2 linked regions of the Homo sapiens genome follow. The protein of the gene in region 1 interacts with the protein of each later gene in a biochemical or structural test. Each region holds a gene or a part of one and is shown in the gene's direction. Other genes may lie near its edges.

Region 1 (3,913 bases):
CTCTTCATTTATGCTAGGCTTTTTGAATTTTTTGTCCAGCAGTAAGCATTTATAGTTTTTTCTATATATTTCTTGTTAACTTTATTCCAAGGTACTTTAAGCTTTTGTTGTCAATGTAAGTGAAAAACATTTTTTTTTCCATTCTTTTTTCCCCATATTTTCTAACTGGTGGTTACTGTTATAAAGGAAAGCTTTGGATCCTATATATGGTGACTTTGCTATACTCTTATCCTAAGAGATTCCCAGTGTAAGGTTTCTAAAAACAAAGCTAATGAGGTGTCTCTATGCTGTCTCTAGGATCAAGTTTAACCTCTTTTTATGGAACACAACCCTGCCCGATCTTGCCCCTATTCTCCACCCTAACCAGCATCCCCCAACATAAACTGTACTTTCCAGGCCAACATTCTTTCTTTCTTTCTTTTTTTTTTTTTTTTTTGAGACGGAGTTTTGTTTTGTCTTCCAGGCTGGAGTGCAAAGGCGCGATCTCGGCTCACTGCAACCTCCGCCTCCCAGGTTCAAGCGATTCTCCTGCCTCAGCCTCCAGAATAGCTAGGATTACAGGCGCATGCCACCACGCCCGGCTAATTTTTGTATTTTCAGTAGAGAAGGGTTTAGCCATGTTAGTTAGCCAGGCTGATCTCCAACTCCGACCTCAAGTGATCCGCCCGCCTCGGCCTCCCAAAATGCTGGGATTACAGGCATGAGCCACCGCGCCCAGCCCCAGGCAACATATTTTCTTAAGGCAGCTTTAACAGGCCATGCATTTCCACATTTCCACACCTTTGCATATGCTGTTCACTCTGCTCCAAATTCCCTTCCCTGTTTCTCTCCCGCACTTCACCTTCCTTTTAACTTTTTCTTCAAACTCAGCTCACGTGTCTTGCTTAGGGAGGGCTTCCCCGACCTCCTCCTATCCCAGACTGGGTAAGGTACTCCTGGTCTAGCAGCATCCTTCTGTTTACCTTATTCTTGTAGCTCTAGCACCACTAAAACGTTTTTCCTGTAAATAACATAGGTGCATTTTTAAATGAAACCGTGAACAAGAAATCACCCTAATTCCGTCGGCAATTTATTTTAGTATTTCAGTAGAGTTGCTTTTTTAAACTAAGGTTTGGAAGTCTAGCTTCCAGCTGCAGGTTTGTGAGCATCCTGAAATTCAGTTCTTCCACCGATGCGTCAAAAGACGCGACAGAACAGTGGACCTCGAAGCCAGGACCTAGGTAAGGGCAGGGCCTAGCTCTAGCTCTGCCACCCATAAATTCACATCCACCCTGTGCCTGGGACTCAGCTTAGCCACACACACCGGCCCCACCCCTCCGGGGTCTCTTTCACCTGTCACCCGCCATTAACCCCGTCAGCTTCTCTCCAATGACACCCCAGGGTTGTCCTACAGGGCCACCGAAGCCTGAAGCTCCTGTGAGTGGGGCCGATAAGAGGCCATTTTGAAAAGTCCTCAGCATGGGCTTCGCCTTTAGATCCACGTCGTTTCTCCTTTCTAACCCGAGATGTGTCCCTTGGGTGCGAAGCGACACCAGCGATTCTCTCGGAGGCCCCGGTGGCTCACCCCCACGACTCCCCGGGGAGGCGGTCCCCATCCCTAGGGAAACCCGGCCCGCCCAGCCTTTGTTGCAGAAACCGCACACGGAGCCATATTTGCTTTCAGCCAAAGGCAGACGTGGTCGGAGGAGTCGGAAGGGCAGGGGCGGACCCGAAACCCGCCGTGCGCCCCACTTCTCCATCGCGCTCCTTCCTGGACTCTGAGGAAGAGAAAATGCGCTCGACCACCTAAGGACCGCGTCTCCACCTTCCACCTTCCCAATCATCTGCAGCTTCCCAATCTGCAGCAAGGTGTCACAAGGGCTTCTCCGCAGCTATGATTTCTAACACCATGCCCCGGGCCAGGAGCCTCAGGGTGCCCGTTCGGGAAAATGGGAGCCGAATCAGGATCACCCCATGCGCCCCCGCACCCTTCCCCCGCCGGTTCCAACGCCCGGGCGCCCCTAGACCGGGGGGGGGGTTCTGAGGTGGACTTCCTGCGCCTCCTCGCAGCTTCCCTCCAACTCCACTAAACGGGCACAGAGACGCCACCGCTGTCCCAGAGGCAGTCGGCTACCGGTCCCCGCTCCCGAGCTCCGCCAGAGCGCGCGAGGGCCTCCAGCGGCCGCCCCTCCCCCACAGCAGGGGCGGGGTCCCGCGCCCACCGGAAGGAGCGGGCTCGGGGCGGGCGGCGCTGATTGGCCGGGGCGGGCCTGACGCCGACGCGGCTATAAGAGACCACAAGCGACCCGCAGGGCCAGACGTTCTTCGCCGAGAGTCGTCGGGGTTTCCTGCTTCAACAGTGCTTGGACGGAACCCGGCGCTCGTTCCCCACCCCGGCCGGCCGCCCATAGCCAGCCCTCCGTCACCTCTTCACCGCACCCTCGGACTGCCCCAAGGCCCCCGCCGCCGCTCCAGCGCCGCGCAGCCACCGCCGCCGCCGCCGCCTCTCCTTAGTCGCCGCCATGACGACCGCGTCCACCTCGCAGGTGCGCCAGAACTACCACCAGGACTCAGAGGCCGCCATCAACCGCCAGATCAACCTGGAGCTCTACGCCTCCTACGTTTACCTGTCCATGGTGAGCGCGGGCGGGCCTAAGCGGTGGCGGGGGCCGGGCGCGGTTCCCGGGGCGCGCGCTGGGGCGGGCCGGGGGTGTGGCCACCCGCGGGCTCTCCCGCCTCCCTGCGCCCTTCTGGAAAATGGAGGCTGCTCGAGGTTTCCGAGGACTTCTCTGGCGCAGAAAGTCGGGGCAGCTGGTTCTTCTCGGCTGTACCCTGAGAATGCTCCCTCCTAGGCCAGGGCCGCCTCTGCACACCCTTCTTTTTTAAGGAGACCTTGGTGTCCTGAAATCCTGGGGTTGCAAGACTGCCAGCCTGTGTGATCAATCCTGCGGTTAGGAAGGTGGAGTTTTGCTTTCCCATCTTTTCCTCTGCCTCCGGCATTTGGCCCTAAATGCCAGCGTTTTTTGCTTAGGTATCCAGCTCCCGTCCGCCTGTGTGTGGCGGAGCTGCTGGGTAACGGTGTCGAATAGCAAACCTTGGGGGCTGGCGGGAGGTGGCTTATCTTGTGGGTAGATCCCTCTCGAGCAGCCGTATCCACCTCTCGGCTCTGCTTATCTCTAAGTCCCACTTGCTTTGAAGCATATCTCTAGGAATCGCCCCTTCTGCAGTCACCGAAGTGTCACCTGACCTTGCGCCTAGGGGACCTAATTTATCTTTTATGTATCTTACTGTAAGAGGTGTGGAGTTTGGCCTACTAATTGAACCCCCAGTTCTTGGATAAAGTCCACCGACAGTTACTGGGCAAGAAATTTTTCAGTGATCAGTGGAATCAGTTTTCCCAAATCTTGGTCTTAGGCAGTGTCGTGGGAGTCTTCCTTAGAATTGCCTTGTGATTGTCCAAACTATCCCAAGAATAAATGTGTTCCAAATGGATTTGAAAACAGGCCTGTATTTCTGTGACTGTCACTGCCTTTCACAAACACTTGACTACATCAAATGTCTAAAACTGAAAATCAAATTTTTGTGATATAACTATTATAAAAGTATGTTTACATCAACATACTGTCCACATTTGCCACCTTGCATGGGGGTTTTTAATTTGTGTGTGTGTGTGAGAGACAGAGTCTCGCTCTGTCGCCCAGGCTGGAGTGCAGTGGCGCGATCTCGGCTCACTGCAGCCTCCGCCTCCTGGGTTCAAGTGATTCTCTTACCTCAGGCTCCTGAGTAGCTGGAATTACAGGCGCACGCCACCACGCCCAGCTATTTTTTTTTATTTTTAGTAGAGACGGGGTTTCACCATGTTGACCAGGATGGTCTCGATCTGCTGACCTCGTGATCCGCCTGCCTCGGCCTCCCAAAGTGCTGGGATTACAGG
Region 2 (3,913 bases), on another chromosome or scaffold:
TTCACATACTGGTTAGGTTGCAAAGGCAAGCCTAAAGTGTCGATAACAGACCACCCAACCAGTATGTATGCATTGGGTTAAGTTCAGTTTCATGGAAGAACTGTAGAAGGCCATGGCATTTTTTATTACTCTTCTTGCTACTTTTTAGTCCTTTTAAAATTTTCATCCAAGGTTTTCATCTTGACTTTGTTTTCATACAGTTATGTCTGGACACATTGCTTCAACATAGAACGCACATGAACAATGTGGAGGTCTAGGCTGGAATGGGGGCCCAGTTGACCACTTTTGCTCTAGCTGGTAGGCATTAATACTATCTCCATGCATGTCAGTTAGAGGAGCTGCCATATTGTCCTTAGCTTATCTTCTTTGATTGTTAAATCATAACATTGCAATGCTTAACTTCTGATATGAATGACTACAGTCTTAAGTCTTAATCATTCTTTTTTTTTTTTTTTTTTTTGAGACGGAGTCTTGCTCTGTCAGGAGGCTGGAGTGCAGTGGGCGATCTCCGCTCATTGCAAGCTCCGCCTTCCGGGTTCACGCCATTCTTCTGCCTCAGCCTCCCGAGTAGCTGGGACTACAGGCACCCGCCACAACGCCCAGCTAATTTTTTGTGTTTTTTAGTAGAGATGGGGTTTCACCGTGTTAGCCAGGATGGTCTTGATCTCCTGACCTGACCTCGTGATCCGCCCGCCTCGGCCTTCCAAAGTTTTGGGATTACAGGCGTGAGCCACCGCGCCCGGACCACTCTTAGTCATTCTTATCCCAAGTTGTCATCCCTAATTTTGCTTGGCTTGATTAATCAAGATGTTCCTCTTTGGGGTTAGCAGTGTGTTTGGGGGCACCTTTGGGGCTTAATATTCCTCTTATGCAGCATTACCTAAGTGCTCTACAAATATGGCAGTTTGGTTCAGTGAAGTAGTGAGTAGCTCACAAAATAGGTTAAAAGGTTTTGTTGTCAGTTTGGTCATGGGTGAGAAGTTAAGTCTTTTAATACTGAGACAATTTCAGCTTTCAAAAGAAGATAATCTCAGGTGTGTTTTGAGCTTTATTTTGGCATTATTGTTAGTCCTCTAGGCTTTAAAGGAGGGAAAATATTAATATTTTATCACTTGTTGGCTTCTATGGGGAGAACCACAAAGTGTTTGCCATATAAAATCAGGATAAAATGGCATTATTACTGTGATAGTAGGTAAGTTAACATATTTTCCTATCCTTGACTCTATTATGGCAAGAAGTTTCAAGTTGAATATAGTCCCCCCAATATTCAACTTGAAATTCAGTTAGAATTTCTGTGGTACTGCCAACTCTGAAGAAAAAATCCAGAGTTGGCTGTAAAATACAGTAAATGTGTCCCCTTTAACCCACAATCTTGCTGCTATTTGTGTGAATCCATGAAGCTGAGCTTTGTGGTTCTGGCAGCAGGAAAGACACTATCTCAGCACTTATTCTGGGATCATACTTTCAGTGGCAACACCCTTGCCAGCTTTGTCTTGTTTGAAAAAAGCCAAAAGTAATAGTTGTGCTAGAAACATTTTCTTTCTCTGAAAAAACCTTCCTGCATTAATACAGGCCTTAGTGGGACATCAAGTTGATTATCTATGTTTAAAGCAGAACTATACCATACTTACTGTGGCTAGTCTGAACCTAAACATTAATTTATCATATATTCATCCGTTTGTCCAAAATGTCTTAGGCCTCTGTTGAATTTAGGGTGAAGCATTGTACAATTGCCAGGGACATTTTCTCTTTATGTCGATTCAGTGGCACACATAGAATGTGAACGGTTGGTAATGACAAGGTACTGATACCAGGTTGTCTGCTTAGTATTAGGATGTACAAAGCTATTAATTCATAAATAAGACATGGTTTCTTCTCTCATGGAGCCCTCAGGCTAAGGAGGCAGGCATGTAACAATAGGGTAACATATGTTACAGGCGTCCTGCCGGAAACCCATACAGATTACAGTGGTAATGCAGGAGGGAGCAGCCAACTCTATTGGCCAAAAGTATTGAGGAGTGAGGTGCTCAGTCAGGAAAGGCTTTGTAGTTAGTGATGGTGACTTGAAAAGCAGATAGGTAGGGAGAAGAGGAGAGACTGGCATTGCTGACAGAACTGGCATAGCCAAGCTGCACAAGATAAACCAAACTATCCTATGCATAGAAAAGCTGTCCAGTAGATTAGGGTGTGGGAGCTGTTCTGGGAGACAGCAGGAGAGTCAGAGTGAGGCCAGGAAATAGACAGCTGTGATGGTTAATTTTAGGTGTCAACTTGACTGGATTAAGGACATCTAGAAACCTGGTAAAATGTTATTTTGGGGTGTGTCTGTTTCCAGAGGATATTGGGGTGTGAATCCAAGTGGATTAGGTGGGGAAAATCCACCCTCAGTGTGTGTGGGCACCATCCAATCTGCTGGGGCCCAGAGAGAACAAAAACATTGAAAAGGCAGATCTATTTGCTGGAGCTGGGATACATTCTTCCTCTCCTGTCTTTGGACAACAGAACTCCAGGCTCCCCAGGCTTTGGGCTTCAGGACTTGTATCATTGGCCCCCTGGGTTCTCAGGCCTTTGGCTTCAGACTGAGAGTTACACCATCTGCTTTCCTGGTTCTGAGGCCTTTGCACTTGGACTGAGCCATGGTACTGGCATCCCAGGGTCTCCAGCTTGCAGACAGCCTGTCATGGGATGTCTCAGCCTGCTAATCACATGAGCCAGTTCCCCTAATAAATCCCCTCTCATATCTATATCTGTATATATCTTTATGTCTATATCTATGTCTGTCTATATAATGTTCCATCTCTCTGGAGAACCCTAACTCAGGAGCCTTATTGCCTTTAAAAGAAATTTGGACTTTATCCTGTAGGCAAATGGGGAGCCATAGGAGAGCTACGCTGCTTTAGATGAGATGATCTACTTGGGATGGTTGGTTGTTGTTTTGAGACAGCATAGAAATTCTTGAAGCAGAAGAGAGGTAAAATACCTTATGCATTTTTCCCCTTTAGAACCTAAACATTTTATAAAGACACAAGGGCAAATACTGAAGCATAAGGGAGTAAAAAGCTACATGTAAAGTGGTCTGAGTGCAGAATTTTAGATTTTTGTGATTTTCTTTCTCCTTAGTCTTTTTATGTTTATGTAATATTTAATAAATCACATCATTATAGTAACAGCTACAGCTGGCTTGAGGAGAGAAACACAAATGAATATAACTGTGAAACTCAGTGAACATATACATAGGGGAGTAGCTGAAGACTTTACTGTGCTGGGGCGTTGGTCAGGATCTTTTAGAGAGAGAACAGAGACCGTTGGTTAAGTAGGTGACGGCCAACAAAGTTTCTTTGTATTTACATTGTGATCAGCCATTTTTCAGAGGCACATAAAATAGATGAAAGTTCCTGACATGAGTTATATTTTAATAGAATTCCTTCTTTGTTGCCATTGATGTAAATTAGTACAAAGGACCATAAAATTGTAACTTTAGTCATTCAGAAGTATGTCTGTTTTTTTTGTGTCTTTACGAAATGTATTATCCAAGGAGGGCTTTTGGAATTAGGGAGAAATTTTCTTATTTTTGATAATGAATGCCTGGATTGGGGTCCCAGAAATTGTATGCATCACAGACAAAGCAGGCACTTCCACTCTGTTCATCTGAAATCTAAGGGATACTTAATTTAGGGTAATGGCTCCTTAGTGTTCCCCTTTGGTGTTTCTCATGTGATTTTGCTTTACTCTTAATATTAACAAAAACAGCTTTATATGCATAGACAACAGCAAGTATTTTACATTCAAAAAATCGACTGAAAGGTAATAGAATTACAACATTGTCTAGATTTCATCTTTTGGCCTGATTGCATATGCAGGCTATGAGGATTATCTTGGAGAAAAGGGAAAGCTAGAAGTACCATAAGCATGA

What was found.
Region 2: the proteins of FTH1 (region 1) and NCOA4 form a complex in vitro, tested with the Homo sapiens proteins (one study listed by BioGRID).

Annotation. Positions count from the first base shown.
Region 1 is NC_000011.10:61,966,014-61,969,926, reverse strand, and holds the start of FTH1 (ferritin heavy chain), read left to right. Parts: upstream 1-2,292; 5' UTR 2,293-2,501; coding exon 2,502-2,615; exon of another isoform or gene 2,616-2,633; intron 2,634-3,913. UniProt on the Homo sapiens protein: Stores iron in a soluble, non-toxic, readily available form. Important for iron homeostasis. Has ferroxidase activity. Iron is taken up in the ferrous form and deposited as ferric hydroxides after oxidation. Also plays a role in delivery of iron to cells.
Region 2 is NC_000010.11:46,023,816-46,027,728, reverse strand, and holds part of NCOA4 (nuclear receptor coactivator 4), read left to right. Parts: intron 1-200; exon of another isoform or gene 201-263; coding exon of another isoform or gene 264-297; intron 298-3,913. UniProt on the Homo sapiens protein: Cargo receptor for the autophagic turnover of the iron-binding ferritin complex, playing a central role in iron homeostasis. Acts as an adapter for delivery of ferritin to lysosomes and autophagic degradation of ferritin, a process named ferritinophagy.